Linked DNA regions of Homo sapiens: all the other regions are linked to region 3. The links come from fine-mapping of genetic effects on gene expression. A gene starts in region 3. Each other region holds a variant in brackets. All regions are shown on one strand. Distances are between the middles of the regions.

Region 1 (8,000 bases), 39 kb before region 3:
GTCCCAGGGAGCACACACAGATTAAAGGAGGTGGTCACATAAAGCCCTCAGTGTGGTGCCCCACCCAGGGAGAAAGCCCACATATAGTGGAAATCCTTCTTCTCCACTCCACCTGTGGCGAGTTCTAGATAAGCATCACCTTCTTCACTTAGCAAAAGGGGACAGGAATGCTTCTGGGCCCATGCCTCAGGGCCCTGTAGGGCTTAGGTAAGGACCCCTAGGAGGGGCTGAGGACAAACCAGGTTCTTGCTCACGGCATTGATCCCTTCCACAGGACCAGCTAGGGGCCTGAGCAAGCTTCCTGTAGGATTCACAGGGGCTGACCACAGATGGAAGGTGACGGCAGTGAGGTCTGGGGCCAGAGGCTGGGCCTGCAACCCAAGTGCCCTCCCTGTACCATGGACACACAGGAGGACCCAGACTGCTGCAGGCAAAACCAACTGTGCCTGTGATCAATCGATGAGCAACCACCCCACCCCTACACCCTAGGACACCCAACAGAGGGGTTCCAGAGTCTGTGATGCTCTCCTCTCCAAGTCTCTCTGCCAGAGTGGCTCCACTTACTAGGGCCTTACCCGGGTCTTGGCCTTCAGGAAAACATGGCTCTCCATATCCTTGCTGGATTTACTGTGTGCCACACCAGCTTTCCTCATGGCATCCTCGCTGAAACACAAAAGGAGAAGAGACGTTTGCACACACCAGTGACTCCACCGCTGCAGGGCCCTGGCCAACAGGCCCTGCATAGCAGCTGCCCCTGGTGACAAGGTGCTATCGCCAGCACACCAGCCTGGCTGAGGTCCAGGAGAGGCATATGGGAAGGGGCACTCAACAGAGAGCAATGACAGGCCACTGAGCAGGGTGATCAGAAAAAAGGGACAGGAAAGGTGGTCGCCATGAAGCAAAGAGAGAGCCCTGGCATGAAGGGACGGGGCGGGGGAGGGGTTGCCCCTAGGGATGGCTCACAACCAGTTCAGGATCAAGGAAGTACGCATTAGACTACTGGGTGGCCAGCTGGCCTCTATTTCCTGCTCTCTGAGTGGCCTGCGTTCCCCATGAACTCTGCCAGATGGTAGCACCCTGGTTCTAGACTCGATTACTCCTATAAAATGAAGGGGCCACATGAAGTCATCTCTCAGTCCCTCCCAAGGCAAGGGTCTGTCCCTATGTGGGACAATGCAGGTCCTATATGTGGGATCAAAGAGACAAGCTCCAACTTCACTTCTAGCTAGAGACAAGAAGAGAAAGACCACATAAATGTGAAAAATATCTTTAAAAACCCATTTACCAACAATTTTGTACTAAGAGATAGAATCCTATGAAGAGTTTTTCATCACACTGCTGCTCCACGGGGATAAAGAGCCATGTACATCAGTTAAGGTGGAGACCCCTCGAATGCAGCACATGCTGCCCCACCCACCCCCACCCCCACCTCCCACACTCACACACAGAAAGACAAAAACAAGTGTGAATCTGTTAGAAAGGCCTGGCCTGTGGCTCCCAGGGGTGGACTGCTCTGGTGTGCTCACTGCCTGCCTTCTTGCCAGTGGGATGGGTCTCTTCCTTGCCTGGCCTCCCACCCTGGGCTTGCTGATAAAGAAACAAGTGGCCAGGTGCAGTGCCACACGCCTGTAATCCCAACACTTTGGGAGGCCGAGGCGGGTGGATCATCTGAGGTCAGGAGTTCAAGACCAACCTGACCAACATGGTGAAACCCTGTCTCTACTAAAAATACAAAATTAGCAGGGTGTGGTTGCGCATGCCTGTAATCTCAGCTACAAAGGAGGCTGAGGCAGGAGAATCGCTTGAACCGGGAGGTGGAGGTTGCAGTGAGCCGAGATTGCGCCACTGCACTCCAGCCTGGGTGACAGAGCGAAACTCCATCTCAAAAAAAAAAAAAAAAAAAAAAAGAAAGAAAGAAGCAGGCTGAGCACGGTGGCTCACGCCTGTAGTCCCAGCACTTTGGGAGGCCAAGGCGGGCAGATCACGAGGTCAGGCGAGCACGACCATCCTGGCTAACACAGTGAAACCCTGTCTCTACTAAAAATACAAAAAATTAGCTGGGCATGGTGGCAGGCGCCTGTAGTCCCAGCTACTCGGGAGGCTGAGGCAGGAGAATGGCATGAACCCGGGAGGCGGAGCTGGCAGTGAGCGGAGATTGCGCCACTGCACTTCAGCCTGGGCAACAGTGCGAGACTCCGTCTCAAAAAAAAAAAAAAGAAAGAAAGCAAAAGAAAAAAGAAACAAGCAAACATGTCAGGGCTCTGGGGCCTTGCCTCTGAGTGAATTGAATAGGCCCAGTCCAGCTCGTGCTAGAAAGCATTCTGACCACTCCAAACAGCAACCAGCCAACCTCAGGAAACTGAAGGAATGTACAGACGGGGCTACAGCAATATGACTGTGATTCTTAAAGACATCACAGAAAGGAGGTTTAATGCTGAGAGGTGCATACATCTGTCTTAATGTAAAAAGAAAAACAAAATGACATTGACCTACCACCCTGCTAGATTCAAAAAGCACTCTTGGGCTGGGCACGATGGCTCAGGTCTGTAATCCCAGCACTTTGGGAGGCCGAGGCAGGTGGATCACCTGAGGTCAGGAGTTTGAGACCAGCCTGGCTAACGTGGTGAAACCCTGTCTCCACTAAAAATACAAAAATTAGTCGGGTGTGGTGGCAGGCACCTGTGGTCCCAGCTACTCGGGAGGCTGAGGCAGGAGAATCGCTTGAACCCTGGAGGCAGAGGTTGCAGTGAGCCAAGATGGCACTACTGCACTCCAGCCTGGGCGACAGAATGAGACTCCTGCACTCTTGGAGTTCCTACCTCCCTGTCTGCTTCCTGAAGCCTGAAGGGAGGCGAGGAGGCAGCAAGGGGTTTCTGCTCACAAGGCATCCAGGTGTGGAACAGACAAGTAAGAAAGGTCACCAGGGCCACAAAAGATGAGAGAGTTAACAATCCAGGAGGATAATGACAACCAACTCACGCGCGGCACTGGGTCAGAGTCCTGGGGAAGCGAGGCATGGGTGGGCTGGGAGGACCCTGTACTCATGCTCTCAGGTTAGCATGGGGCAGGGTCTCCACACCCAGAGGCTGAGACGATAGCTGCTAGGCCCCAAGAAGTCAGTGAGCATTTCTGATAGAAGTGGCTGCACAGGCCTGTTTTCTGAAGGTTGCCTCATCTGTGCCCCTCAAGGCAGGTATGCCCTTCAAAGGCATACTTGTTCTTCCCACCTTCCTTTTTTCTTTTTCTTCTTTTGTTTTTTGAGACAATGTCTCACTCTCTCACAGGTGCAGCGCAGTGGGGCAAACACAGCTCACTGCAGCTTCAAACTCCTGGGCTCAAGTATCCTCTCACCTCAGCCTCCCAAATAGCTGGGACTACAGGCATGCGCCACCACGCCTGGCTAATTTTTTTATTTTTTACTTTTTTTGTAGAGACAGGGTCTTGCTTTGTTGCCCAGGCTGGTCTCAAACTCCTGGCCTTAAGTGATCCTCCACCTTGGCCTCCCAAAGCACTGGGACCAATAGGGAGACTCAGGGAAGAGCAGTAGAAACAGCAGGGGAGCATTTGCAGGCCAAGCAGGACGGCCTGGAGGCTGGCTGTGTAAGGAGTGGGGAGGCTGTGGGTGGCAGATGTGGCCAGGAGTCAGAGAGGAAGAAGGGTGCAGAAGAGTCTGGGGAGTGACAACCAGTTACACAGATGGGCTCTGTGCCCACCAGCAGCGATCAGAGAGCAAAGCCAGGCTTTGATACAAAAGCAGTCCTTTTGAGCTGCTACTGGCCGTTTTTGAGAGTGTCAGCAGACTGGCAGGCCCCAGACAGACACTGTCTTGGTGCAGCAGAGACACCTGGCACAGTCAGAGAGACAAGATCTAGAAACACAGCTTAGTGCAATAGCTCTGAGGTGGTGGGATGACCAGGTTGAAGAAATATGCTTGGTGAGCTGAAGGCAAGGTGGCACCATACACCAGGGGATGTACTGGCAGACGGGCCCTGTCCTGTCCTGGGTAATGTCACAGATGACATGGACACTGTGGGCACCGTCAGCTACTCAGAGCCTGAGGAGCATGGACCAAGCTGGAGGCCAGAAACAGGCAAGTCTTGACAGGCCAACACCAGGAAACCGAGTTGGGGTAAATGTCCAGTTCCACATGAGCTTCGGAGGGTCAGAGTGGGGCCAAGGAGCAAGGTGCTCCTCCGGCAAGGCGCTCCTCCAGCAAGGCTACCGCTCAGAACAGCAGCACTGTGCCATGTCACTCCCACATCTCTCCCACAGCATCCACCCAGGGAGGCCCAGCAGGTTTGGTGGCCAGTAACAGACCCTGTGTGGTTTTGCAGTTCTGACAACTGTATTTTTGAAAATGTCTTTGCTCCTGTTTCTAGTTTGAAGATCAAGTGTCACAAAATAGAGACAAAGCGAAAAAGAACCCAGGAACTCTGCAGCTAATCCCCCACACTTCCCTGCAGATGCCTGCCCTTTCCTCTCCAGCTGGCCTGGCGCTTTTCAGAGGCATCCCCTGCCTGGACATTGACTCCAGGAGGGTACCCATTTCACACTCCTGCTGAGGTCAAGTCCCCTTCCTTCCTCCCTTAGACCTAACACACCCGCTGCGGGAGGCTGCAGGCAGGACCCAGGCCCACCTTCAGAACAGCACTGGCTGCTCCCAAAGCCCCCTTCTGATCTCCCTGAGCTGGGCTCTGCTGCCATCCCCAGCATGCCTTCCTGAGCAGCCAGACCCGAATGGCTACTCCTCAGTCTCTGTCTCCTGAAAACAAAACCCTTCGAGCCACTGTCACGAAATGAAAGGAAACTATCACACAAGGAGACAGCCCCCAACATGGAGTAAGGAGCACAGCCTGAGACAAAGAACAGAGAACCCACATGTCACAGTGAGCTCTTCCCCCACACAAGCAAGCCGGGAAGACGAGGGCCTGTCCAGCCAGAGGAGGACAAAGAGCAGACTGGTGTCAGCTCACAAGGGAAGACCCT[T/C]GATGGCTGTCCTGCCACAGTCCTGTCCAACATAAGCAACAGGTTCACAAACAGTACAGGCCTATGAGGCGGCCACCAAAGAACCCAAGGCTGCCTGGGTGGTGCTCGCTCTAGCTGAGGAAGGGGGCTGGGGGCCACTCCCTGGTTGCGACCAGCCAGACCTCTGAACACAAGGACTGTTACCGGCTCAGAGCACACAGTCCCTTGCTGTGAACTGGGCTCCAATGCTCTGCCTTTGGCCATGGTCTAGCTGGTTGCCATAGCTATGTCTGTGTACTCAGTCAGGGTTCAACTGGTATCTAGCTTAGACTGAAGCCTCCCAGGGGACCGATTCATCATTACAGGCCCTTGGAGCTCCCCCACTAAGGGGTCTGAGGATGTCCTTACTGTCCAGAACTGTTCCCAGAACACAGTGTGTCTTAATGGCATTGCCCGACCCTGCCTGAGCAGCCAGCAGGGATACATCAAGAAAAGCTCTTCGTGTCTTCATCTCCCAGCACCAAGTGCCCATCCCAGAAACTTGGGAACTCCCTTCACTTTCTGACTGCCACCTTTAATTCTCCAAAGTTCAAATCTTTGCCCCAACTCCCACTGCATCTGTGGCAATTCCTCCCAAAGGGCCTCTGTCTCCCGTTCCCATTCCTACCCCCACGCCCTCGCCAGCTCCCCAGGTCACATGACTGCCAGTGAGCAACTGCCACTGAGTGTGGGAAGCAACCCAGGCCCCTGCTTGCTTTGAGCCTCGCTCCTCACCAGCAGAGCAGGCAGCCTGTCCAGGAGCCCACTGAGGAGCCTGCTCCTGCGCCTGCCCCACACACTCTCCCCAGGGCCCCAGGGATGATGACCTACTACCTGGCACATTGCCTGACTATCCCATCAGGCCTGTTAGGGCCTCCCACCCTGCTTCCACCCAGGCACCCCTGCTGTCGGCTGCACAGAAACCCTGTAGCCACCTCACCCATGTCTGTGGCACTTCCTGGAGGAATCTCTGGTTTCTGTGTGCCAGCCCCACTATACTAAGAACACCCTGAGAGCAGAGACAACGGCGTCCACTTTTGTGTGCAGTGGGCAGTCATCACTGCCAGGCACAATAACTGGCTCTTTTTAACACAAGGAGTGGTACTGTCATGCATTTTGATGGGACACGACGTGCAGAACGGAGAATCAGCGTGGCAGCCATGGGGGAATCCAGGCCTCAAACAGGCACGTCCTGGCAGTGGAGGCCAGGGTGCCTGGGAGAAGGCGTGTGCTGGGGCAGGCAGCTGGGCCTGGCAGGAAGCAGACAGGGGAGGAGGGACCTGGGCTCAAATTCCAACCTAGCCACTCACCAGCTCTGGGTCTTGGGAGAGGCACTCCCTCCCCTAAAGCGTAACCTCTTCATAAAGGAGGGGCTCTGAGAGGCTGTGGCCAGGACGAAGGTGCACAGACAGGGCCAGGCAGTGAGGAGAGGCCCACTGTTGGCCTGGTCTGCAGGGCTTCTGCCCAGCATGGGCCTGTTGTTCCTCACCTCCTTCCTATTCCAAATTGAGAAACTGGCAACAGGAGTCCAGTCCCAGTCCTTGTAATCTGAATGAGACTAAGATAAAGCAAAAAACTGGCAAACTGAGCTTCCTAGGGAAGGAGCACAGGGCATCAAACTTAAAGCCTGCTAAGGCCAGGGAGGCCTGAGGCAAGCTGCCCCGGTCTGCCCTCAACCCATCTGGCAGCGCCTCCCTATCCTTCCTTTGCACAAAGGGTGGGGACAGTGCCGACCTCACGGGTAGCCCTGAGGATGATAGTAGTTAATATTATAAGGCACTGGACATACAGGAAGTGCTAGGTATGCGTTAAAGAAATAAGTCAGGCAACAACCTGCCCAAATGTGCAATAGGATGCATCCCAAAACACCTCCGCCATGTGTTGAGGTTATTGTTGCCCCCTCCTCAGCAGACGATGGCCCAATGAGCATGTGCAGCTCCCTCAGGCAGAGCCACCCTCCCATTGGAGCTCTGAGTCACCTGCAGTGTACCCTGAGGCCAGCTCCACCGCCCGCAAGAAGGACACTCACACAGGCATGTTGATGAGGCATGAACTGGCCTCCCCACCCCAACTCCCGCTCTGCTCTGCTCCACGCCCTGACTCTTCCTTCCACAACCGCCCTGGTTCCCACCAAGGACCCTCTCCCCTCTCAGTGAGGCCTCTCCCCTGACCCCACCCTCTTTACCACTGCTCCCCCTGCCACACTGCCAGGCCCCCTTCCCTGGTCCAACTGCTTTCCCATTGCTGAATGAGGGCATGAATTCCCAGGACAGCCAGCTTCTCTGTCCTCTGCTGGTGTCTAAAGCAGGAAGGTGCGTTCCTCCCTGGGGCACAGATTCACCCTCCTGACCTCAGGGGGGCAGGATGATTCCTCTCAGCCGATTTATGTTCTGCTCGAAGGAAACTTCTGTGAGTTTCTTCTAATTTTCTAATTTTGAGAAACACAACATCTATCAATCAAGTGAACTCTCATAGGGCAGAATAAATTTTTGGCAGCTCCACTTCACCCCACCCAAGAAGCCTCCCAGTAAATTGCTGCCTGTGTGTGCAGCCTGCTTGCCCACCTGGGACAGGAGCCCACAGCTTGTATGTGGGACCCTTTACCCTATGTGTTTAAAAACCTAAATCACAGAGGACCACAAGACAACAGAAGGAGAGTTATACAATATCAGGATGATGGTTTCCTAAGCATGTCACCAGAAGCAGACACTATAAAGGAAAAAAGATTTTCCCATATTAAAAAAAAGATTTGGACTAGGTGTGGTGGTTCACGCCTGTAATCCCAGCACTCTGGGAGGCGGAGGTAGGTGGATCACTTGAGGTCAGGAGTTCGAGACCAGCCTGGCCAACATGGTGAAACGTCTCTACTAAAAATACAAAAATTAGCTGAGCACAGTGGCTCACGCCTGTAATCCCAGCACTTTGGGAGGCCAAGGCAGGTGGATCACCTGAGGTCCGGAGTTCGAGACCAGACTGGCCAACATGGTGAAACCCCA
Region 2 (8,135 bases), 23 kb after region 3:
AATCCCAGCACTTTGGGAGCCCAAGGCAGGCGGATTACAAGGTCAGGAGTTCAAGACCAGCCTGGCCAACATAGTGATAACCCCATCTCTACTGAAAATACAAAATTAGCCGGGTGTGGTGGTACATGCCTGTAATCCCAGCCACTCGGGAGGCTGGGAGGCAGGAGAATCTCCTGAACCCGGGAAGTGGAGGTTGTGGTGAGCCGAGATCGCGCTGCTGCACTCCAGCTTGGGCAACAGAGTGAGACTTCGTCTTAAAAAAAAAAAAAAATTAGAGGAAGGAGGGAAGACGACAGAGTTGCCATCTAGAAAAACAAAGTTGGACCCTTGCTTCATACCTTATACCAAAATAAATTACAGGTGGATCAACAGTTTTAAATGTGAAAGATTCAATAATAAAAACACTAGAGGAAAATATCGGAAATGTTTTCTGAATAATCTCAGAAAGAAAAAGCCTTTCTAAGTTTGACACAAAACTCAGAGGCAAGTAAATGGTAAATTTGACAACATTGAAAACGAAGATAGGTTGGTCCGAAGGTAGTGTGAGTTACCTCAGTTGATTGTTCACAGTCACAGATCCAACTCCAGGTTCTACTTTTTCACCTTCTCACTACTGCAGTTGACTAGACTTGTTTAAAAAAAAAAAAAAAAAAGACAAATTTCTGCATGGCAAAAAAGCAATACAAAATCAAAAGATCGGGGAAACTCCTCATCAAAGAAAGGGCAGATTTCTTCAAATTGATAAGACAGTCTAACAGAAAACTGACTAAGAATCTGAACTGTTCAGAAAAGAAAATGGAAATGGCTCTTTAACATATAAGGAGATTTTCTGTACCTTATGTGATAAGGTTTTTCCCTTTTGTGGTGGTGAGTTAGAGCTGGTGTCTTCCTGGGTTGGGGGTAGAGGGTGCAGGCACCAGGCCCTGCTATCAGGAATGATATAAAAACAGCAACTTGACAATACTATCAAAGTATAAATGTATGTAAACCCTTCGACCCAGCAACTGTATTTGTGGGACTTAATCCTGGCATATGCATACTCAGCATGTTGTAAGGGTGAGGATGTTCATCATGTGAAATAACTGGAAATTACAAGTAACCTAAATATACCCCTGTAGAAATGGGTTAAAGAAGTGAGACAGCTGGCTGGGCGCGGTGGCTCATGCCTGTAATCCCAGCACTGTGGGAGGCTGAGGCGGGTGGATCACCTGAGGTCAGGAGTTTGAGACCAGCCTGGCCAACGTGGTGAAACCCCATCTCTACTAAAAATACAAAAATTAGCCGGGCATGGTGGCGCAGGACTGTAATCCCAGCTACCCGGGAGGCTGAGTTTGGAGAATTGCTTGAACCCGGGAGGCGGAGGTTGCAGTGAGCCGAGATTGCACCATTGCTCTCCAGCCTGGGCGACAAGAGCGAAACTCCATCTTAAAAAAATAAAATAAAATAAAAAAAGTGAGACAGCCTTTGCAAAGAGTGAGGCAGTCTTGCGTACATGGGCATGGATCAGTCTCCAAGCTATATTGTTAAGTAAAAACCGGGCTGGGTGCAGTGGCTCACGCCTGTAATCCCAGCCCTTTGGGAGGCCGAGGCAGGCAGATCACGAGGTCAGGAGATCAAGACCATTCTGGCTAACACGGTGAAACCCGGTCTCTACTAAAAATACAAAAAATTAGCTGGGCGTGGTGGGGGGCACCTGTAGTCCCAGCTACTTGGGAGGCCAAGGCAGGAGAATCAGTTGAACTCAGGAGGCGGAGGTTGCACTGAGCCAAGATCGCACCACTGCACTCCAGCCCAGGCAACAGAGTGAGACTTCGTCTCAAAAAAAAGAAAAAAGCCAAGTGAGATGTGGAATATGACTGCCCTGAGGATAGTGTGGCCCTGGGAGGGGAACTGACTGATGGTCTGGGAGCAGAGGCAAGGGGACTTTCACCACAACCTATACTGTATTTTTTTTGTGTGTGTGACAGAGTTTCACTCTTGTTGCCCAGGCTGGAGTGCAATGGCACGATCTTGGCCCACTGCAACCTCCGCCTCTTGGGTTCAAGCAATTCTCCTGCCTCAGCCTCCTGAGTAGCTGGGATTACAGGCATGTGCCACCATGACCAGCTAATTTTGTATTTTTGGTAGAGATGGGGTTTCTCCATGTTGGTCAGGCTGGTGTCGAACTCCCAACCTCAGATGATCGGCCTGCCTCGGCCTCCCAAAGTCCTGGGATTACAGGCGTGAGCCACTGTGCCCGGCCTAACCTATACTGTATTTTAAATCTGGTAGCATGTATATGTATTACCTAGTCAAAAAAATAAATAAAATGTAAAAATAGCTTCTCTTATAATCTTCATGTTGCTGTCATATTTAAACTTCAGCCCCAGTTGCCAGCCTCTTACCTCCAAACACCTAATCAGTGTCTACACTTGGAGGTTTCACAGGTATCTCACACTGATCACACAATCACGGGACTCCCAGCTGTCCAGATTTTCTTCCATCAGTAAAGGGTCCTCTTCGGCCCAGCAGAGGGCCTTGAGTCCTCCCAGGTCCTCCTAGATTCAGTCTGTCAGTAGGTTCTCTGTGCCGTGTCCCAGGGTAGTCTCAGCTACTGCTTTCTAGCTGCAATGCCCTCCCCAGGGCCAGGGTCACCCTTGGCCTCCAGGCCCACAGGAATCTCAGGCCTAATTGGTCTTCCAGGGGCTCCTCCTCCAGCACCTGAGTCGGAAAGCCAGTCAGTTCACATCACTCTGTGGGTAAATTCCTCAAGAGCATCCCATAATGCTCAGATTTCAATCTGGACTGTACCTACCCTAGAGGTAGGGGGACCTGGCTCCAAGGCCTGCCTGCCCATCCCACTTTCTGCTCACTTCGTCATCATCTTGGCTGCCTTGCATGCCAAGCTCTGCCTTGCCCCAGAACTTGTACACCTGTCTCCTTCACCTGGAACTCCCTCCCCGGCTGCCTACACCCTCTCAGCCTTATCCTTAGGTCTCAGTTCCTCAGATGGGGCTTTCCCTGCTCCTTCTCATCATTCCACCTACCCCTCTTCTAACCAGTGACTCTCAGGTCAGATGCCCTGCTGGGTTCCTTCTTAGCATTTATTTATATATGTATATATGTTTTTTGAGACAGAGTCTTGCTGTGTCACCCAGGCTGGATCGCAGTGGTGTGATCTCGGCTCACTGCAACCTCCGCCTCCCGGGTTCAAGCGATTCTCCTGCCTCAGCCTCCTGAGTAGCTGGGATGATAGGCGCCCGCCACCACACCCAGCTAATTTTTGTATTTTTAGTAGAGACGGGGTTTCACCATGTTGGCCAGGCTGGTCTTGAACTCCTGACCTCAGGTGATCTGCCCGCCTTGCCCTCCCAAAGTGCTGAGATTATAGGCGTGAGCCACCACGCCCGGCCAATTTTTGTAATTTTTGTAGAGACAGGATTTCACCGTGTTGCCTAGGCTGGTCTTGAACTCCTAGGCTCAAGGGATCTGCCTGCCTTGGCCTCCCAGAGGGTTGGGATTAGAGGCGTGAGCCACCGCGCCCAGCTATTTTACCAGTTTACTTCACTATAACTCCTTTTGCTCTTTGTTTTTTGTTTTGTTTTGCTTTTTGAGACAGTCTTGCTTTGTTGCCCAGGCTGGAGTGCAGTGGTGCAATCTTGGCTCATGGCACCCTCCGTCTCCCAGGTTCAATCAATTCTTGTGCCGCAGCCACCAAAGTAGCTGGGACTACAGATGCACAACATCATGCCCGGCTAATATTTGTATTTTTAGTAGAGACGCGGTTTCACCATGTGGGCCAGGCTGGTCTCGAATTCCTGACCTGAAGTGATTTGCCTGCCTTGGCCTCCCAAAGTGCTGGGATTACAGGTGTGAGTCACCGTGCCTGGCCTCCTTCTGCTCTTTGAATGATACTTGGCATTTGGTAGGAACTCCATAAATATACATTGAATGAAATGACTTTTATTAGTTTCCCATTAATTAATTCATTGCTTTGAAATGTGCTCTGGAGTTGCTACTGCTCCGATCCAGGAACTGCACTGATGAACACAGCAGAAGCAAGCTGCTTGTGGCCTCACCTCCCGAAGCTCACATGGGACTCCTTGGGCCCATGAAAAGGGAAACAGGACAATTTCCAGGATGGCTGCCCAGACTTCGTCAGGATCCTTTTGTGGGATGGCTCATGCATGCACACAGTTCACTCAGAGCACAGAGTGGGTCAGCCCACTACCAGGGCCCTGCCACCAGCGCCAGGTTCTTCTCTGAATGCTGTCACTCTTGGCAACATGGGCTTAAGTCCCTGTTGGTATAACTCCATTTTCTTGTGTCTTCACTTTGCAGAGGAATGTTTGCTGGGGGATTGAAGGAGATGGAACAGGAAGAGGTCCTGATCCACGGTGTGTCCTACAATGCTATGTGCCAAATCCTACATTTCATATACACCTCCGAGCTGGAGCTCAGCCTGAGCAATGTACAAGAGACACTGGTGGCTGCCTGCCAGCTTCAGGTGAGGCATGTCTCATCTAGCAAGGCAGACCCACACCCAGGTGGGGTTCCCTGAGATGCCCATGATGCCTGCCGGGCACTAGCATTGGCTTGAAGATGGGTCAGGAATGTGAGGAGACCAAGCAGTGACGAAGGCCATGAAGTGGGGAAGACTCTGGAGTTGTTCCTGGAGCTCAAGCAGAGCCGCTCTAGACACCCCAGGCCTCTGCCTTTGCCCTCTTCTCTATTGCTGGTTGTTTCCCCACTGTCTGAGTCTCCCTGTCATTGAAAGCATCCTGCACATAAGCAGGTAGGCTGACCCGAGGCTGCATGTGGACGTCCTGTGTGCTCTGGGGTCTGGCAATGGGGAGCATCCACCAGCATTGCTGCCAGGGCCCTTCCTGCCTGTCCCCTCACTGGGCCACTTCAGTCTCTTGAAAACTTATGTGTTTTGTTACTGAACTTTATCTATCTATTTGTCTGTCCATCCATCCATCCATCCATGCATGCACGCATCCATCCATCCATCCATGCATGCATGCATCCATCCATCCATCCATCCATCCATCCATCCATCCATCCATC[T/CATCT]ATCCATCCATCCATGCATGCATCCATCCATGGTGGCAGGCATCCATCCATCCATCCATCCATCCATGCATGCATCCATCCATCCATCCATCCATCCATCCATCCACCCATCCATCCATCCACTCATTCAATTTATTGGAGACAAGCTCTCTCTCTCTTGCCCAGGCTGGAGTGCAGTGGCACGATCACAGCTCACTGCAGCCTCAACCTCCTGGGCTCCAGCAATCCTTCTGCCTCAGCCTCCCAAATAGCTAGGACCTATAGGCATGTGCCACTACACCTGGCTAATTTTTAAATTATTTTTATAGAGATAGAGGCTTGCTTTGTTGCTTAGGCTAGTCTTGAACCCCTGGCCTCAAGTGATCCACCTCAGCCTTCCAAAGTGTTGCGATTACAGGTGTGAGCCACTGCGCCTGGCCTATTTTTTTTTTTTTTTTAAAGACAGGGTCTCACTCTGTTACCCAGGCTGTAATGCAATGGCATGATCATAGTTCACTGTAGCCTCCACCTCCTAGGCTCAAGTGGTCCTCCCGCCTCAGCCTTCTGAGTAGCTGGGACTAAAGATGCGTGCCATTGTGCCTAGCTGATATTATATATATATATATTTTTTTATAGGAATGGGGCCTTGTTATGTTGCCCAGGCTGGTCTCAAGCTCCTGGCCTCAGGTGATACTCCCACCTTGGCTTCCCAAAGTTCTGGGATTACAGGTGTGAGCCTCTGTACCCAACCTGTTATTGAACTTTAAGTACTTGTTTTCCTGCAGAATTCAAAAAGTTTTCTGAGGCTTTGACAGTGTGACTTATGTTTTGGATGATTATTCTCAGTGGTGTGGGTGCAGTTACACGGGACTGGGCCTGCAGGTGCCTTTGAGCTATCAGGCAGAGGCCTGATAGGAGTTGACAGTCACCTCTTCCCACATTTCTTAAAAGTGAAACAAAATGCTATGCTAAGTTCATCATTCTGACCTTTCTTCCCATGAGAGCAGGTTTGACGCAATTAAAAAAAAACAACTCAAGTCACAGGAAAACCAACCTGTTCGGGGGCATGTGGAGGTGCCACCCCATGTGACAGGGCCCTGGCAGCCTCCCTGTGCCCTGTTCTCAGATTGGTGGATAGGACCTGGATGCTGGGTGGGTTGATCTGAGATGACTGACTTGTCTCACCATACCTGCATGGTGAGTAGATGGAGTTGGCTTTTACAACAAAAGAATTTCCCCCTGTTCTTTTATTTAGAGATCTCTTCTGTCCCCACATCCCTGTCATTGTTGCTTTGGGAACCCTCATCCAATTCTCCACCCTGGCAGCAGTTAACTCCTGATTCAGCTGCCTCTGAAACATCTCCCCCAGCATGGCTCAGGTCCAGCTGTCCTATCTCCTCCTCCACACCTGCCACTCTCCCGGAGCTCCCCTGTCAGTCCCCCTGCTCTGTGTGTCCTGTGACCATCCTGCCAGTTCCCTGGGCTCAACCTCAGTGGCTCCTTGAGCCCGTCCACCTTCTTAATTCCCTGCGTCCATGTGAGGACAGGTCATCCTTCTCGGTATTGCTTGTAGCCATCTCTGTTCTGTGTTTCCATTTCCTTCCCTTTTGCCTGGCCTCCATCTGTATGTTTCTGCCATTTCTTTCTTCTCCCTGCAGTGATCACACACACTGAAACCAGATCATCTTTCTAACATCACTTTCCCTCTCTCACCAGTCAGCTTGGAGGCCTGCAGTCTCTCTCTGTTGGTTTGGCCAGTGCTCCCGACAGCCCTGGGTCATCTCCCCCAGTGCCTCAGAGGTCATCTCAGAGGCAGCAGCCTATCTTAGTTTTTTAACATATCAGGCTTCTGGGCCAGGCTTGGAGGTTCATGCCTGTAATCCCAGCACTTTTGGAGGCCAAGGTGAGAGGATTGCTTGAGGCCAGGAGTTTGAGATCAGCCTGGGCAACAAAGCGAGACCTCTACAGAAGCACTTTAAAAATAGCCGGGCATGGTGGCATGCACCTGTAGTTCCAGCTACTCGGGAGGCTGAGGTGGGAGAATCACTTGAGCCCAGGAGGTGGAGGCTTCAGTAAGCTGTGATCACCACACCACTACATGCCAGCTTATCTCAAAACAAAAAACAAACAAACAAAAAAAAACAGGCTTCTTCACAATATTGTTTTATAGCAGGTTTTACTTGGCATAACCATGTCAAGTCCATAGGCCTGTAGAATCATGTATGTTCACATAGCTAGTGACTTTTGGAGGCTTCCCCCATGTGTTGTGCCCTGCAGTAGGCCTGGGACCAGATTCTTCACGGTGTCCCCAGAGGCCTGAGTCTGATTCCCAGTAACACTGTCCTATTGGGTTACCCCAAGCAAATGCAGTCCCTTCTGTGAGCCTCGTATGGGGCTTTTGCACATCCTGAGCCCAGGCTGGTTCCTCTGTGAGATTTCACTGAACAGAAGGCCCACTGCTCTAAAAATAGGACTGAAAGGAGAGTCAGCAGGGTCCTCTCAAGGAGCTGCTGCTGCCCAGGCTTCTTCAGGGCTGTTTGTGCTCACATTCTGCCCAAAACTTGGTCTTCAGGACCCTGGCCCATGACAAACCAGAATTTTAGGAAAACCTAGTAGTTTGGGAAGAAGTGGCAAAGCAGAAGACTGGCAAAAAGGGAAAAAAGAAGGTCAAGTGAAGCTGGTCAGGGCCTAGCAAAGCACCATGGGGATACCTCATGTAGGGCACATACCTGCCTGACATTTGGTAGGTCTCATCCAGCTCTTAGCATGTCACCTTGCAAGCAATATTAGATGTCTTTTGAATTTTAAAAAAGTTATAGTTAGTGTTTATTGATAAGCTTTAAATACCTTGGCCGGGCGCCGTGGCTCACGCCTGTAATCCCAGCACTTTGGGAGGCCTAGGCGGGCAGATCACGAGGTCAGGAGATCGAGACCATCCTGGCTAACACGATGAAACCCCGTCTCTACTAAAAATACAAAAAATTAGCCGGGCGTGGTGGCGGGCGTCTGTTGTCCCAGCTACTTGGGAGGCTGAGGTGGGAGAATGGCGTGAACCCGGGAGGCGGAGCTTGCAGTGAGCCGAGATCGTGCCACTGCACTCCAGCCTG
Region 3 (8,135 bases):
AAACAAAAAACAAACAAACAAACAAAAACCAAACTTTCTCTTTTTCTGACCGGGACAGAGGAGTTTGTAATAATGCAAGCTGTTACTTGCAACCCTAACGCAAGCTGTCCTAAAGCAAGCTGTCACTTGCACCCACTGGCTATTCAGAGATCAGGGAGAATATTCTCACTGGTCATAAAGCCAAGCTCTCAGGACACAAATAAAACAAACAGGAAAGAGGTAGCTGTGCCTGGGAGGAAAGGATCAATAACAAACAGTTACCCCTCAACCAAATTTAAGCAAGAGTCACAATCCAGACACAATGTTTTCTTCTGCTAATTTGAATTTGGAAAGGAAGGGACAAGAAGTTTTTACCTTCCACTCTCAGCTGAGTACTACAGGCAGTGATATGGGACAGTTAACCTTGGTAAGAATGCTTACCTTTTGCCAGTTGTCCCAAGTGGGGTGTCTTTGCCACCCCACTTGTTTGTTGGGTGCCAGAAAGAGTAGGGGGAAAAGGTAATATTTTTTCCTCACGCATCACAAGGTTCCTGGTTGACACCCCTCTAACAAAGGACAGATTAACAAGAGAAAAGCATATCAATTTATTTAATATAAATTTTATATGACACAGTAGCCTTCAGAAAAAAGCCCCAGTGTCTAGTGAGGGGTCCGTTCTCTGCTTTTTTTTTTTGAGACGGAGTCTTGCTCTGTCACCCAGGCTGGAGTGCAGTGGCGCGATCTCAGCTCACTGCAAGCTCTGCCTCCCGGGTTCACGCCATTCTCCTGCCTCAGCCTCCCAAGTAGCTGGGACTACAGGCGCCCACCACCATGCCTGGCTAATTTTTTGTATTTTTAGTAGAGATGGGGTTTCACCATGTTAGCCAGGATGGTCTTGATCTCCTGACCTCATGATCCTCCCACCTCGGCTTCCCAAAGTGCTGGGATTACAGGCGTGAGCCACTGCGCCCAGCCGATTCTCTGCCTTGAAGATGGTGCTTATTACAGTGTCCTCACCTGGCAAAAGTGGGGGATGAGCTCCTTCGAACCTCTTTTATACACTGATCCCATGGTGAGGACTTCACCCTCATGACCTAAACCCCTCCCAAAGGCCCTACTTTATAATAGTATCGCACTGAGGATTCAGTTCCAACATATGAATTTTGGGGGTACCGACATTCAGACCACAGTGGCCTTCTTGTTGCTGCCCCAGGATTCCTTTTCCTCTCCTCTCTGGGTCCACCCGTACACCTGGTCCCATTGGGCCTTGGAGGTCAGTCTTCCCCTACCTGGAGCCAAGGGGGGCCTCATCTTCCCCCAGACCTGCTCTTGCTCTGGCTCCCCTGTAGGCAGGGTGGGCCTACTTCCCCACCCATCTCCTGGGCTCATTCTTCACACATCACTGGGCTTATACTGGGGAACCTGCTTCCTTCCCAGGTTTCTAGCCTGCTCCACTCTGGTCTTCACTCCCTGCCTGAGACCACAGCACTGTGGCTGGCTCCCTACTCAGTCTTCGTCTCTACCATATTGGCATCTGCCCACCCTGGCTACAGGGTGCCCTCAGGGCTAAGTCAAGCCTCCAAAGGGCAGGGTCTGCTCTCCAACCTTCCCTTCAGGCTCAGAAAATTCTGGAAACCTCCACACCACTCACTTTGAAGGATCTCACCTCCACGTTTGCTGACACTGTCGGCTTCCTGGAATGCTTTTCTTAATCCCAAAGTCCTCCTCTGTTACACAGTAGGGGGGTCTCCTCCAGAAAGTCTTTCTAGGAGGAAGCCCACTCCCATTTGGAACCTCTGCCTCTGGAGGCCAATCCCGTTCTCTTGATCCTTGTCTGGGACCCTCAGTTATCTCTCTGGACTCAGCCAGGACAGCAATTCTCTTCCGTGTATTTTCCTCCTTTTACATTCCCCTTCCACCAATTTTTTTTTTTTTTTTTTTTTTTTTTTTTGAGACGGAGTCTCGCTCTGTCACCAGGCTGGAGTGCAGTGGCGCGTGATCTCGGCTCACTGCAACCTCTGCCTCCCGGGTTCAAGCGATTCTCCTGCCTCAGGCTCCCGAGTAGCTGGGACTACAGGTGCGCGCCACCACGACCGGCTAGTTTTTTTGTGTGTGTTTTGGTAGAGATGGGGTTTCACCATGTTGGCCAGGATGGTTTCCATCTCCTGACCTCGTGATCCGCCCGTCTCGGCCTCCCAAAGTGTTGGGATTACAGGCGCCAGCCACCAAGCCCGGCCCCACCTTTCTTTTTAACCATGAGCCATCTCCAGCCACATCCTCCCCCTACCACTCTCTCCACCCTTCACAGTCCCTCTCAAAACCACAGTGTGGGACACTCCAACCTTATCCCATCAGGAGGCTCTGTGGCTCCAAGCTCTGGGCGCAGCCATTACGGATACGCCTCGGAGGATGGGACCTGCTCGAAGGTGAGGTGGAGAACAATGAATGCCAAGACCCGCGCACGGACCTCTGGGACCAGGCTTTAAGACTGGGAATTAGATTTACTGCAAAATCTCAGTAAAGGAACGGGCACACAAACTAGCACCTGTTCACTCTGGCGGTGTTAAGCGATTCTCCCCGATATCCCGCAGGGGGCGCGCTACGGTCAGCGGCACCGACCGCGGAGGGAGCGGGGAAGGAGCAGGCCGCGGGAGGGAGGGAATGAGCGCGTGACGAAGGGAACAAGTGGAGGAGAGGAGGAAAGAAGGGAATCAAAGAGGGAGGGAGGCAATGGGAGAAGAGGAGAGGGAGGGAGGGAAAGAAGGGGGGAAATGAGACAGGGAGGGAAGGAATGAGAGAGGGAGGAGAGAACGAGAGTTAAGGAGGGAGGGAAAGGGAATGAGAGAGGGAGGGGATGAGAGGGGGAGACAGGGAGGGAGTGAATGAGTGAGGGAGGAAGGGAATGGTGGGTAAGATAGGAAGGGAAGGAATGAGAGAGTGAAGGAGGGAGGGAATGAGAGGGGGGGAGTAAGAGAGGAGAGAAGAGAGTGAAGAAGGGAATGAGGAAAGGAGAGGGAGGATATGAGCGGGGAGGGAGATAGTGAGGAAGGGCAGGAGGAAGTGAGTCGAGGAATGAGGGTAGGACCGAGGCAAGGAAAGAGTCAATGGATTCAGACGGGGCGACTCTCGGCAAATTCGCTCATTCGTTGGTTCGGCCCCGCCAAGTGCCAGGTGCCGCGCTAGTGCGGGGACTCACTGAGCCTTGGCGATCGCTGCTGTCCTCCGCAGAGCGCCGGAGTGGAGCCGCCCCCTGTCTCCCCGCCCCAGGGCCGCCCCCGCGCTGCTACCCGGCCAGGCCGGGAACCCCCGGGCCTACGTCTGGCCCGCCCGGCGCCTGCGCGGCGCACCCACGTGACGGCCCAGGCCCCCGCCCCGCCGGCTCCTCTCGCCCAGCCTCCCGCCTCGCGCCTCCCGCCTCCCGCCTCCCGCCTCCCTCCAGCTGCGAGTGCGGCCTCGGCTGGCGGCGGCACCAGGTCAGCTGCGAGGCGTGAGCCGAACGGGCCGGGCGGCAGCGAACGCGGGGGTCGGGCGGCAAGCAGGCATCGCTGGGCCGGGGACAAGCTAGCGGCGCGGAGTCCGAGGGGCGCGGGGGCGGGCGCGGGCCGGAGGCTCGGGGGCGGCGACCTGAGGAGAGCCCGCGGCCTGACGTGGCGGGGACGCGGCCGGCGGGATCCCCGGGCGCGGGCGCGTAGGGGCCGGGATCTGGCGCTCGGCCAGGGGCCAGGGTGCGAGGCCTCCTCAGCGCGGCTGCTGGCGCGCCGGCCTCCTGGCACCCGGGCGGGCCCTGTTGCCTGCGGCAGGTCCGAATGCGGCCTTCCTGGCCGCGACCCTCCGCGCTGGAGCGGGCGGCCTTGCAACAGGCGGGCGATTTGGGGCCGGCCTGACGAGCCTCAGTTCCCTCGATCGGGCCCGGGGACTGCAGCCGTAGGAGCCCAGCCTTGCCAGCTCTCCCGGTTTCCTGAGAGGAGCCGGAGATCGCGCTGTCAGTGCAAAATCACCAGAGCGCGAAGCGTCGGCTGCCAGTTCTGACCATTTTAGATCCGGTGCGGGCCGAGCCGAGTGGATCTGGGGCGGGCAGCGGGGCACCGCCACCTTCCGCCTGGGCTCCTCACTGGGCGCCCTCGCTCCGGCCCTCCGCGGGGCCGAGTGCCTCCAAGACGGCTCCCTGGGAGATTCTTCCAGAGCGCACCCTTTGGAAGGCTGCCCCGCTGGGAATCAGCACCCACTCCCTCTCCTCTACCGCAGCCGCCCCCTTTGCCTTTGTGGCCGACCTTGCTTCATGCTGCCAAGGATTGAGTTTCTTTGAGGGGATACTGCTCGTTCGGGGGCCCTACAGAAGGCTGAGGGTATCTACTCAGTAAAATCGTACCGAACTGAAAGTTCCTCTGAAATGATTTTGACTCTGCCATCCATCACTTCATAAAAATTCATCTTGTATCCTTCAGTTTGTAGCTATGTGGCACATTAAGCTTCCTTTCTTCTCCCCACTGAAACTTCGAACAGTACAAAACGGGGAACTTGGCTTGTGATGACTAAAATTGGGGATATGAGACTGGGGGCGGGCGCGGTGGCTCATGCCTGTAATCCCAGCACTTTGGGAGGCCAAGGCTGGCAGATCACCTGAGGTCAGGAGAGACTAGCCTGGCCAACATGGTGAAACCCCGTCTCTACTAAAAATACAAAAATTAGCTGGGTGTGGTGACACGTGCTTGTAATCCCAGCTACTCGGGAGGCTGAGGTAGGAGAATCGCTTGAACCCAGGAGATGAAGGCTGCAGTGAGCCAAGACCCTACCACTGCACTCTAGCCTACACCATATAGTGAAACCTCTTCTCTACAAAGAAAATTTGAAAAATTAGCCGGGCGCAGTGGTGAGCTCCTGTTGTTCCAGCTTCTGAGGAAGCTGAGGTGGGAGGATCACTTGAACCTGGGAGCTTGAGACTGCAGTGAACCCCAAGCTGTCTCACCCCAGATAGCCAGGACTACAGGTGTACACCACCATGCCTAGTTAATTTTTAAATTTTTTGTAGAGAAAGGGTCGCGCTATATTGCCCAAGGTGGTCTTGAACTCCACCTACCTGGACCTCCCAAGGCACTGGGATTACAGGCATGAGCCACCATGCCCAGCCTACTTTGCACTTTTTTTTTTGGGGGGGGGGCAAAGTCTGGCTCTGTCGCCCAGGCTGGAGTGCAATGGCACAATCTTGGCTCACTGCAACCTCCACCTCCTGGGTTCAATCGATTCTCCTGCCTCAGCTTCCCCCTTCCTCAGCCTTCCCAGTAGCTGGGATAACAGGCATGCGCCACCACGCCCCACTAATTTTTGTATTTTTAGTAGAGATGGGGCTTCCTCATGTTGGCCAGGCTGGTCTTGAACTCCTGACCTCAGGTGATCCTCCCACGTTGGCCTCCCAAAGTGCTGGGATTACAGGCATGAGCCACTGTGCCCAGCCTACTTTGCACATTGTTTTTTTGTTTGTTTTTTTGTTTTTGAGACGGAGTCTCGCACTGTCATGCAGGCTGGAATGCAGTGGCGTGATTCTCCTGCCTCAGCCTCCCAAGTAGCTGGGATTATAGGCACCTACCACCATGCCCGGCTAATTTTTTTGTATTTTTAGTAGAGATGGGGTTTCACTATGTTGGCCAGGCTGGTCTTGAACTCCTGACCTCGTGATTCATCCGCCTCAGCCTCCCGAAGTGTTGGGATTACAGGCGTGAGCCACTGCGCCCGGCCACTTTGCGCATTTTGACTGTTGCCTAATGTTCTGTCAGATCACTGTGCCATGACATCTGTTCTCCTGAGGGTGGACGTTTTGGTGATTTAAAACCGTATAGATGTGGTTTTAAATGTTTTAAATGTTGCACCCTGTGCTGTGCTCCTTCCCAGCAGAGAATTGATTCATTTTTCAGCATATCCCCCTTAGCCCCTAGCTAAGTTTCTTAAATTGGACTTGGTAAATGTGCTTTGCCTGCCCATGGAAGATGTCTTTCTGTTTTACCGTACTTGTTTTTGCAGTATGGGTTTAGGGAGTAGCTGCCATTTATCCCTTCCCAAGAGAGCAGAGGCACTACTATGCTCACGGAAGGTGAGGATCCACCTGGGGGCTTGATGTCTATTGGGGTAGTTGTGGAGGTCACCCTCAGAGAAGGAGGCCCTCTTGACTCTGCGGTGGTCATGGTGGTGATGAGAAAGCTGAGGCGTGGGTATATGAGACAAGTGCCCAGAGTCTGTCATTAGCAAGTGGTACAGCCAGCCATGGGGGCTTTTGAGATGTTTGTGAGATAAAACCTCACCCCTCAAGAAGCCGGAATCTCCTTGTCGTGGGTAAATAGGCAGGTTTGGGCCGGGCGCGGTGGCTCATGCCTGTAATCCCAGCACTTTGGGAGGTCAAGGCAGATGGATCACCTGAGGTCAGGAATGCGAGACCAGCCTGACCAACATGGTGAAACCCCATTTCTGCTAAAAATGCAAGAAAATTAGCTGGGTGTGGTGGTGCACGCCTGTAATCCCAGCTACTGGGGAGGCTGAGGCAGGAGAATCACTTGAACCTGAGAGGCAGAGGTTGCAGTGAGCCAAGATCACACCACTGCACTCTAGCCTGGGTGACAGAGCGAGACTCCGTCTAAAAAAAAAAAAAAGGGCAGGTTTGAATGGTGGGGCATATTTGTCATGTTCTCTGTACAATGATAGAGGGAGAAGTAATCGAGCTAGACCTTGACCAATATGGGACTATGAGAGACAGAATGGCCTAGATGGGTGACTAAAGGTGTTCAGGGGATGACAGGTATCCCTTTTGGACTAAGGACTGCTGATGGGGCTGAGTAGGTAAGGCTTGAAGGAGAGCAGCCTGGGGAGGATGAGACAAGAGGTAGGGAAACTGGTAGGGGCATCACTGCTGTGGTCTGACCCAGAGTGGTGGCCCTGGAGGAGTGGAGGGTGGCTGTCTGAGATGGAGGAGAGGTGAAGGAATCAGAACTAGTAGGTTCATAGGGCACATGGGTTAGAAAGGAAAAATATTAAAACAGTGAGGTTTCCAAGATGGAAATGGTAGCTTTGATAGTAAAATTAGACAAGTTGGAGGGCTACTAGCTAGATTAGGCACTGAGCTGTAGGTGAAACTGGGAATGTGAACCACTGGGAAAGAAGGATGGGCTCGAGCAGGGTGTGTGGGATGAAAGAGAGAGGTCAGAAAAGGGAGAATTATCATAGAGCAGAGTTTCCAGGCAAGAGAATCCTAAGTGAGAGGTGGTCATGGGGTATACACCTTGGCTGTGGCCATCTCTGGGGCCTTGGTGAGAAAGATGAGCCAGCCCAGGAGGGGGAAAGGAATGGGTGGGTGGCTGGATAGAGGTCCCAGGTCCTGGAGGCAGACTCAGGGGCAGGCACAGATAACTGAGTGTGTTTGATGGGAAGCAGTAGAGCATCCAGGGGATGGGGTTGGGGGTGGCCCTGAGCCTCAGTAGTGAAGAGAGAGACCTCTTCTTTTTGGCAAGTTTTATATCAGCATATATTTTTCATTTTTTCTTTTAAAGATATATAATCATGTGCCACACAGTGATGTTTCCGTCAATGACAGACCAGACCACATGAAGGATGGTGGTCCCATATTTTTACTGTACCTTGTCTGTGTTTAGATACACAAATTCCATTGTGTTACAGTTGCCTATAGTATTCAGTACTGTGATATTGTGAAATATATATTTGGTCTTGTCTCATTTCTTGGCATACAACTTCTAAAATCTTTGGACTTTCCAGAGTGATGCCTTTTTGTATGCTGGCCAGCAGCCCCTAGGTAGCTTCAGGATGGGGGCTGGTGACAGGAAAGGCCAAGGCAGGCATAAGAGGGTTGGGACTTTCAGCCTCACCTCTCAACCTCCGGAGAGGGGAGACAGGCTGAAGATTAAGTTCATCACCAATGGCCAGTGATTTAATCAGTCATGCCTACATAATGAAGCTTCCATAAAAATTCTGAATGACTGGGTTTGGAAAACTTCTGGATAGTTGAACACATGGAGGCTCCTAAAGAGTGATGTTCCTGGAGAGGGCCTGGAAGCTCTGCACCACTTCCCACATGTCTGGCCCCATGCATCTCTTCATCTGTATCCTTTGCAATACCCTTTATAACAAACCAGTAGACATGAGTATTTTCCTGAGTT
Region 4 (8,135 bases), 38 kb after region 3:
TTACAATAGGATGATACAAATCTGAGTTAAAGTGACTCTCCTAGTCAGTTTCAGCTGCTATAACAAATACTATAGATGGAGTGACTTAAACAACATACCTCTATTTCTCACTGTCTGGATACTGGGAAGTCCAAGATCATGGTATTGGCCAGTTTAGTCCCGGTAAGGTCCTTTCCGTCTGTGTTCTCACATGGTGGAGAGAAAGAGCTGTAGCCTCGGGCACTAAGCCCATCATGGGGCTCCACCCTCATGACCTGATCACCTCCCAAAGGCCATGCCTCCCACTACCATCACAATGGGGGTTAGGCCTTCAACATAGGGGTTTTGGGGGAATCCAAACATCTAGTCCATAGCAATAAGTAAAATTGTTTATATCTTTATATGCAAAAATAAAGCTTATTTTTATTAGAAAAATATTACTTGAGGACTTATTCTCATAAAGTAGAAAATTAATTCAATAAAGAAGAAGAGGGATACAGGACACAACAGGGAAATAAGAAATCAGTGTAACTTTGGCTATGTCTAAATTATTGACATATGGTATCACTGTTGGTGTCTTTTTTTTTTTTTTTTTTTTTTTTTTTTTTTTTTTTTGGGGGATGGAGTTTCACTCTGTCGCCCAGGCTGGAGTGCAATGGCATGATCTCAGCTCACTGCAACTTCTGCCTCCCGGGTTCAAGTGATTCTCCTGCCTCAGCCTCCCGAGTAGCTGGAACTACAGCCACACACCACCATGCCTGGCTAATTTTTTTATATTTTTAGTGGAGACGGGGTTTCACCATATTGGACAGTCTGGTCTTGAACTCCTGACCTCGTGATCCACCCGCCTCAGCCTCCCAAAGTTCTGGGATTACAGGCGTGAGCCACCACGCCCGGCCCTGTGTGTGTCTTTAAATTTGAAGCCACAAATCCACATGAACTCAGCTTAAAAAGCTGTGAGGACAATAGACTCGAAGGAGCAAACAGGAGCACATGGAGGGTCCTATCTCACTCTGGTTGCAGACACTTGGGGTGCAGATGGTGATTGAGCCAGACTGAACACAAGAGAGGAGAGACTTGTATATAAAGGAGGAAGGCGCACAGGAAAGGCAGTGAACAGCACCATCCCAGCCAGTTGACGGGGCCCCTGTGAGTGCTGTGCCCCAATCCTGGACTGCTGGTCCCCTGCCAGACCTTCTTCTGGCTTGTGCCCCAGGTCATGCAGGTCTCAGACCCTGCCTTCTCAGGAGGCCTTTCCTGATCACTGCAAGGGAGCTCTGCCCTCCCCAGGCCCCGCTGACCAGCAGGTCACTCATCTTCTTACCTCCCTTTCTTTCTTTCACAGTGTCTGTCATTATATTAAGCACTCATTTGCTCTGGTTAGCCTGTTTCCATTCTGCAGGGGAAGGCAGGGCCCTGACCTCTTGAGGCTCCCTCTGGATGTAGTGCTGAGCACTGTGCCCCATCCACAGTGGGAGACCTGGGAATGTTGGTAGAGTGAATGAATGATTCATTGCTGGTAATCTTACTCCTTTGTTTAATTCATTCAGCAGACAGAACATAATCTGTCCTGAGCCAGAGGCTACACTGAGGTCTAGGAATATAGAAATGAACCATGATCCATCAGAACCCCCAAGTTAACAAGGACACTTTTCATGCTCGTCTTTTATGATTCTTCTTGATAGCTTTTCTAGGCAGGTGATATCACCTCATTGGACAGGTGCAGAACTGAGCGAATCCCAAGAGATTAAAACTGATGCCCAGGCACACCCAGCTAGACAGGGAAGAGCCCAGGATTCACACCAGGTCAGGGAGACCCAGGTGTGTGTTCCCTCTCTTGTTGGCCCTGCCTTCTGAGGCTCCTGTTTGCTGCATTCCTGGTAGGCGGCGGGGAGGGGCTGGCCACACTGCAGGGGCTGCAGGAAGCAAAGGATGAAACTGATCTTTTCACTAACCAGCATAGGGCACAGGCCAAAGAAAACTTTGGTTACTCTCTTGTGAGCCAGTTGAAGTTAGACTTGTTCTCTTTGGAATAGGTCTTCCTCTGCAGAAATAAAAACACTTGTCTGAAAGAGGCTGTAACTATCTGTGGGCTGTTGGGCAAGGACACTTCAGATACTGGCTTTGAGCTCACTGGGTCCTGGCCCCTCATGGCTCTGTGATCATCTCTGCTCCACATTGCAGGCCATGCTCCCTGTTGGTGCTCAGCCCAGGAGCCCTCCTTGGGTCCTGGCCAGACTCCTCCACCCTCGTGGGCCTGCCGCAACCAGTCTAGTGCCTTTTCTCCCATGGGGGTCCCTGGAATCTCACACACCCTGCCCTTACAGAGCCTGCAGTCCAGGGTGGGAGTTAACCCTTTCCACTTTCCCAGAGAGGGAGACCTTGAGTGGAGGGGAGGTCAGGAAACGCGGGGCTGGCAGCATGGTGGGAGGAGGTGAAAGTACGATGACCAGAGCCTTGTGTGTGCGGCTGTTGACAAAGCTGAGGGTATGATGGGTGCTGTGTGCAGGGCGTGCCTGAGAAGACCACTCCTGATGGAGTGCTGGGGGAAGTTCAAGGCTTGGAGGCCAATGAGGGGGCTGATGGCACCCATCCAGTGGAGAGGCTGTATTTGGAGGCCCTCCTGAGTGGGAGCAAGGCTATGTGGATGATGAGATGAGGTAAGTGAGATGGAAGTGGCTGTACGAACAGCCATTGAGGCTGAGGCAGGAGGATTGCCTAAGTCCATATCCCAGGTGTCAAGACCTTGTCTCTATCAAAAAAAAAAAAAAAAAAAAAAATAGCGGGCGTTGTGGTGCGCACCTGTAGTCCCAGCTACTTAGGAGACTGAGGTGGTAGGATCACTTAAGCCCAGGAGGTCGAGGCTACAGTGAGCCATGATTGTGCCACTGCACTTCAGCCTAGGGGACAGAGAGACCTCTCTCCACAAAAAAAAAAAAAAAAAAAAAAAAAGAGCCATTGGACAGCCCAGGTGGACAGTTAGGTGGAAACACAGGAGGCTCCTGGCCATTCCTTCCATGCTGTGTGGTGGGGAGCACCTGTGCTCAGGTGTGTAACAGCCTGTGGGCCTGGCTGTAGATCGGTGTGCACTGGTATGTGGGGTAGTTGGGGAGGGTTCAGGCTGGGCTGAGGCAAAGCAGAAATGGGACCAGAACAAGAGGTGCAAGCCTGCGGAGCAGCCTCCCTGCCTAGTCAGTGCTGTGCTTTCCTCATGTCTCGGCACAGGTATGACCCACGGCACAACCGCTGGTTCCAGATCCAGTCCCTGCAGCAGGAGCACGCCGACCTGTCCGTGTGTGTTGTAGGCAGGTACATCTACGCTGTGGCGGGCCGTGACTACCACAATGACCTGAATGCTGTGGAGCGCTACGACCCTGCCACCAACTCCTGGGCATACGTGGCCCCACTCAAGAGGGAGGTAAGGAAGCCCTCGAAGAGGGGCCTTCTCCTGCCTAATTTCCTTCCCCAGGATGTGCAAAGAGTGAGAGGCCTAGGTGTCAAGGCCTGTCCCAGGTCAGAGAAACAGGCTCAGTGAGCAGAATCCATGCTTCTCCAGAGACCCTGCATTGAATGCATTGATGAGGCCCCATGAGGTTCAGCCAGTCCACCTGGGGAGGCTCATCAAGGATCCAGACCCCATTGCTCAGAATTGTGCCCCACTTGTGAGTCTTACATGCTGAGACCTTGTCACACCACCTTGGCCCTGGCAAGCTGCTTAAACCTTGTAGTTCAAATGTGGATAGAACATTTGCTCTTTGTGCAGCTGAGACGAGCTGGGACACTTCCAGAGATGTTAAACAGGAAGGGACCCTGAGAGCTCACTGGCCTATCCTCAGACCTCTTCCCTCTAGGTCCCCTGAAGGGTGGCGCCTTCCAGAGCCAAGAAACACTCTAAGGTTTTATTTTTTATATTAAATCCTATGTTTGAATATTGGGACAACTTGAAAAAAAAATCACGTGCATCCTATATAATACCTTGGTTTATTCCAATTTGAAGATGTTTAAAATTATGTTCATTATGGAAAAATGATGTTTTAGGGAGGTGCCTCTCTTTTATCTTACGACTTTGGGGTACTCAGGCCTGGTGTAACAACCAGACATGGGATCCCAGGGAAGGAACAGGCCTTGCTGGCCCCCTACTTCCTGGGTCTCAGCCTCCGAGAACAGGGCATACCCTAGCAGTACTAGGGGTACCCTAGCAGGGCACCCCGCTAGTACTGGCATAGCATTTGTGGAGCACCTGCTATGGGCCAGGTACACCTTTGGGGATAACCGAGCACCTGAGAGGCAGAGGATGGTATGGGGGGCAGGTTCTACCTGCACTGCCTCAGGGAGTTTAGCAAGAGCTCTGGCCTTTGTAAGCCTCTTTCCAGTATCTCTCATGACCCCCAATTCCCCCAGGGACTTAGACTTTGACTTCAGGGGTCAGGGCTAGTGTCTCCTCAATGGATCCAGCTCTTCTTTATCCAGGTCATTCACACAGCCCACACAGATTTCTGTCTCTTGGGCAGCTGTGAGCTGCAAGCTGTGGCCTGCTCCTTGCTCTCAGCTTCTTTGGGGAGAAGGAAGCCTCTTTGGAAGGACACTCCGTACCCCCATCCTGGGGAAAGGAGCAGATTTTGCATGGAGAAGATCAGGAGGTCCTTGAGACCAAGTGGACAAGGAGGGCTCTTGGGTTCTGTTCCAGGAAGGGTGTTGGGGGAAGCCTCCTAGGTGGGTGTTGTGGGAGGGGCTTAGCAGTTTCTTTGTCTGCGGCAGCT[G/A]GGGAAGCAGCAGTTCTCCAGCTTGGCCACAGAGGGGCAGCCTTGGCTTTCAACCAGCTGCATCGTGGCTGCCGGTGTTCCTTCATGCACGCATTCATTCCGCAACTACTAAGCACCATGTACCAAGTCCTGGGAATCCAGTGGTGACAAGAAATGAGAAAGACTCCCCACTCCATGGTGTTTACAGCCTTGTAGGAGAAACCACTCTTAACCAGAAAACAGATCAGTAAAGTGGTTACAATTATGGTAAGTGAAATGAAGAGGGGGCTGAACTGGAGGATTTCCAGGGAGGGGGCTCTGGTAGGATGAATCTAGAGGGACTTTTTGGGGAATGTCCATCTGAGGAGATGTCAATTAGACCTGCCATTTACAGAGGGAGGAAATGTTACTGGGAATGTGTCCTCGGTTCTTGTCTTCTTGGTTAAGACTTTAAGCAAGAGACATGCATTAACGAAGATAAGTGTAAGGCAGTTTATTGCAAAAGTGAAGGTACATTCTGAAGGCCGAGTCAGAGCAGGCTGCTCCAGAATAAGATCGCCCCAACTGGCATGGGAAACCTCCCTTACAGGAGGCTTACATGATTATTCATAAATGGGCGGGAAGAGGTGTTACTCATAAGCATGTTTTGTTTGGGTGGTCTTCTAGCAGCGCATGCACTGTGGCTCTACGTGCTAGTGTATTTATCGCATGTCTCATTAGCATCTTAAATCTTCACCCAGGAGGTGTGTTTTTTACCACTGCAGTGAACAAAAGGTTACTTTCGAAGCAAGCAAAACTGGGGCAAACTATACAACACAGGCTCCCGGGGGTGGAAAGTTCCTTGTGGGGTTAGTTCCTACTTGAGCTGGATAAGCTTAACTGAAAGAGGGGTTGGGACTTTTGAAACCCCAGGTGTGGTTAACATGTCTCAGAGGTCATAGTCCCTCTGGCCATGCTAGGGGCTGAGGCCAACCTGGAGTCCACTTCCCTGCTCATATCTAACCATCTGCCTAGTCTAGCAGAAGGACCTTCCAGGGCAGGAGAGGGGCTCACAGCTTTTCCTGAGCAGGAGAGGAAGCATGGGGCATGCTTGTAGAAGAAGGAAGCCCAAGGATCAAGAGCAGAGCAAGCGAGGCTGGCCCTGGGTCATTGCGTGGTCTGGGCTGAAGACAGCAGTAGCCTGTGCTGGCACACAGCTGTGGAGCTGGAGGGAGATGGGAGGGTTCAGAGTGTAGCGTGGAGGTAAACTGATCAGGCTTGCTGATGGATCAGATGTTGGGGAATGAAAAAGGATAGGTCATGTTGGCAGGGCGCGGTGGCTCACGTCTGTAATCCCAGCACTTTGGGAGGCCCAGGCGGGGGGGATCACCTGAGGTCAGGAGTTCAAGACCAGCCTGGCCAACATGGTAAAACCCCATCTCTACTAAAAATACAAAAATTAGCTGAGCATGGTGGCAGGCGCCTATAGTCCCAGCTACTCAGGAGGCTGAGGCAGGAGAATGGCGTGAACCCGGGAGGCAGAGGTTGTAGTGAGCTGAGATCACACCACTGCATTCCAGCCTGGGCAACAGAGCAAGACTCTGCCAAGACTCCGTCTCAAAACAAACAAACAAAAAACCTCACAGGATTGGTACACTGAATATTACAAAAAGCCGATGAAAGAAATAAAAGAAGATGTGAATAGATGGAGAGACATACCAAGTCCATGGATTGGAAGAGTAAGAATAGTAAGAATGTCAGTTCTTTCCCAACCCAATTAATAATACATATATTAATACAGAATTCCTCATATTGATATAGTATTAATACAGGAATACTAGTATTCCTATCAAAATTTCAGGAAGGTTTTTTGTACTATTAAGGGAAAATGAAAATTGAAGCTGAGGTTTGGATATACCCCTAGGCCAACTGCCTGTAGCCATGTAACTGAAACTTAAGCTTTCCTCCCTCAGTGTGATAGCTTTACAAAGAAAGCTTATGCAGCTCCACATGCACAGTAGGGAACAATATTCTTCCTCATTCATGCTTTATAAACTGTGTTGTAACTGCTGTGAATTGGGGCTTCATACCACTTCCAGTTTGGGGTTTCCTGGTTCATGAACTCTTCTTTTACATGCACAATAAGCTTTTTAAAAATTTTTTTATTTTTATTTTTTTTGAGACAGAGTCTCGCTCTGTCACCCAGGCTGGAGTGCAGTGGCATGACCCCGGCTCACTGCAACCTCTGCCTCCCTGGTTCAAGTGATCCTCCTGCCTCAGCCTCCCAAGTAGCTGGGATTACAGGTGAGCACCACCATGCCCAGCTAATATTTATATTTTTAGTATCATGAAGGTTTCACCATATTGCCCAGGCTGTTCTTGAACCCCTGGTCTCAAGGGATCTGTCTGCCTCGGCCAAAGTGCAGGGATTAGAGAAGTGAGCCATCACATCCAGCCTAAAATTTTTTTTTATTGCTGGTCGCAGTGGCTCACGTCTGTAATCCCAGCACTTTGGGAGGCCGAGGATGGTGTATCGCTTGAGGTCAGGAGTTCAAGACCAGCCTGGCCAACATGGTGAAACCCCATCTCTACTAAAAATACAAATATTAGCTGGGTGTGGTGGCACACACCTGTAATCCCAGCTACTGGGGAGGCTGAGGCACAAGAATGGATTGAACCCAGGAGGCAGAGGTTGCAATGAGCCGAGATTGCGCCACTGCACTCCAGCCTGGGCGACAGAGTGAGACTGTCTCAAAAAATAATAATAAAATAAATTTCAAAATAAATAAAATAAATTTTTTAATTTTGATTTGATTTTACTTGTGACATTAGATGTAAATGAGATTATTCTGAAATGTATATATAAAGGCAAAGGAACTAGAATAGCTCAAATAATTTTGAAAAAGAACGATAAGATGGGAGGAGTCTGCCCAATTTCAAGATTACTACATAGCTACAGTAATCAAGGCTGTGGTATGGATACAGTGATAGACACATAGATCAGTGAAACAGAATGGAAAACCCACAGACCTGAGTAAATATGCCCAGTCATGTTACACATGATTTTGGACAAAGGTGCAGAAACAATTGAGTGGAGGAAAGATATCTTTCAGCAAATAGTACTGGAGCAATTAGACATGCGTCGGCAAAAAAATGGATATCAACCCAAGTCTCATACCATATACCAAAATGAATTCAAAATGGTTTATGGAGTTAAATGTAAAACCATAAAACTTCTAGAAAAAAAGAAGAAGAAAATCTTTTTTTTTTGAGACCATTGATTTTTAATATTTTCTTAAAAAAATACAAAAGAAATTAACTCTGTAGTACAGGTCAGTACACTTCAGGGAAAGAGGGAAAAATGGAATTTCAGAGCAAAGGTTGTTTAGGTTATCACATTCCCACACTCCCAATACCCATAAAACAAGAATTTCACTC

Evidence for each region.
Region 1: its variant is fine-mapped to the expression of KLHL22 in whole blood (TOPMed, PIP above 0.99).
Region 2: its variant is fine-mapped to the expression of KLHL22 in whole blood (INTERVAL, PIP 0.94).
Region 4: its variant is fine-mapped to the expression of KLHL22 in whole blood (TOPMed, PIP above 0.99).

The regions. Positions count from the first base shown.
Region 1 is chr22:20,529,780-20,537,779 of GRCh38, reverse strand. MED15 (mediator complex subunit 15) reads right to left here. Exons shown (of 18, transcript NM_001003891.3): 2 at 576-663. Among named protein-coding and RNA genes, the nearest start is that of MED15, 26 kb to the right of the region's middle. RefSeq lists enhancers at 55-224, 6,633-7,620. The variant T/C (reference allele first, on the strand shown) is at 4,987.
Region 2 is chr22:20,467,701-20,475,835 of GRCh38, reverse strand. It overlaps KLHL22 (kelch like family member 22), which reads left to right. Exons shown (of 7, transcript NM_032775.4): 3 at 4,321-4,486. It overlaps LOC124905085 (a long non-coding RNA gene), which reads right to left. Exons shown (of 3, transcript XR_007068014.1): 2 at 2,385-2,700; 3 at 552-628. It also overlaps the pseudogene RNY1P9. Among named protein-coding and RNA genes, the nearest start is that of KLHL22, 24 kb to the left of the region's middle. The variant T/CATCT (reference allele first, on the strand shown) is at 5,050.
Region 3 is chr22:20,491,077-20,499,211 of GRCh38, reverse strand. KLHL22 (kelch like family member 22) reads left to right here and starts at 3,417. Exons shown (of 7, transcript NM_032775.4): 1 at 3,417-3,452. It overlaps LOC101928824 (a long non-coding RNA gene), which reads right to left and starts at 3,299. Exons shown (of 4, transcript XR_007068011.1): 1 at 2,525-3,299; 2 at 421-545. RefSeq lists an enhancer at 2,251-2,903 and a silencer at 3,098-3,757.
Region 4 is chr22:20,453,070-20,461,204 of GRCh38, reverse strand. It overlaps KLHL22 (kelch like family member 22), which reads left to right. Exons shown (of 7, transcript NM_032775.4): 5 at 3,205-3,397. LOC124905085 (a long non-coding RNA gene) reads right to left here and starts at 230. Exons shown (of 3, transcript XR_007068014.1): 1 at 99-230. It also overlaps the pseudogene KLHL12P1. RefSeq lists a silencer at 1,277-1,475 and enhancers at 4,440-4,941, 5,690-5,859. The variant G/A (reference allele first, on the strand shown) is at 4,740.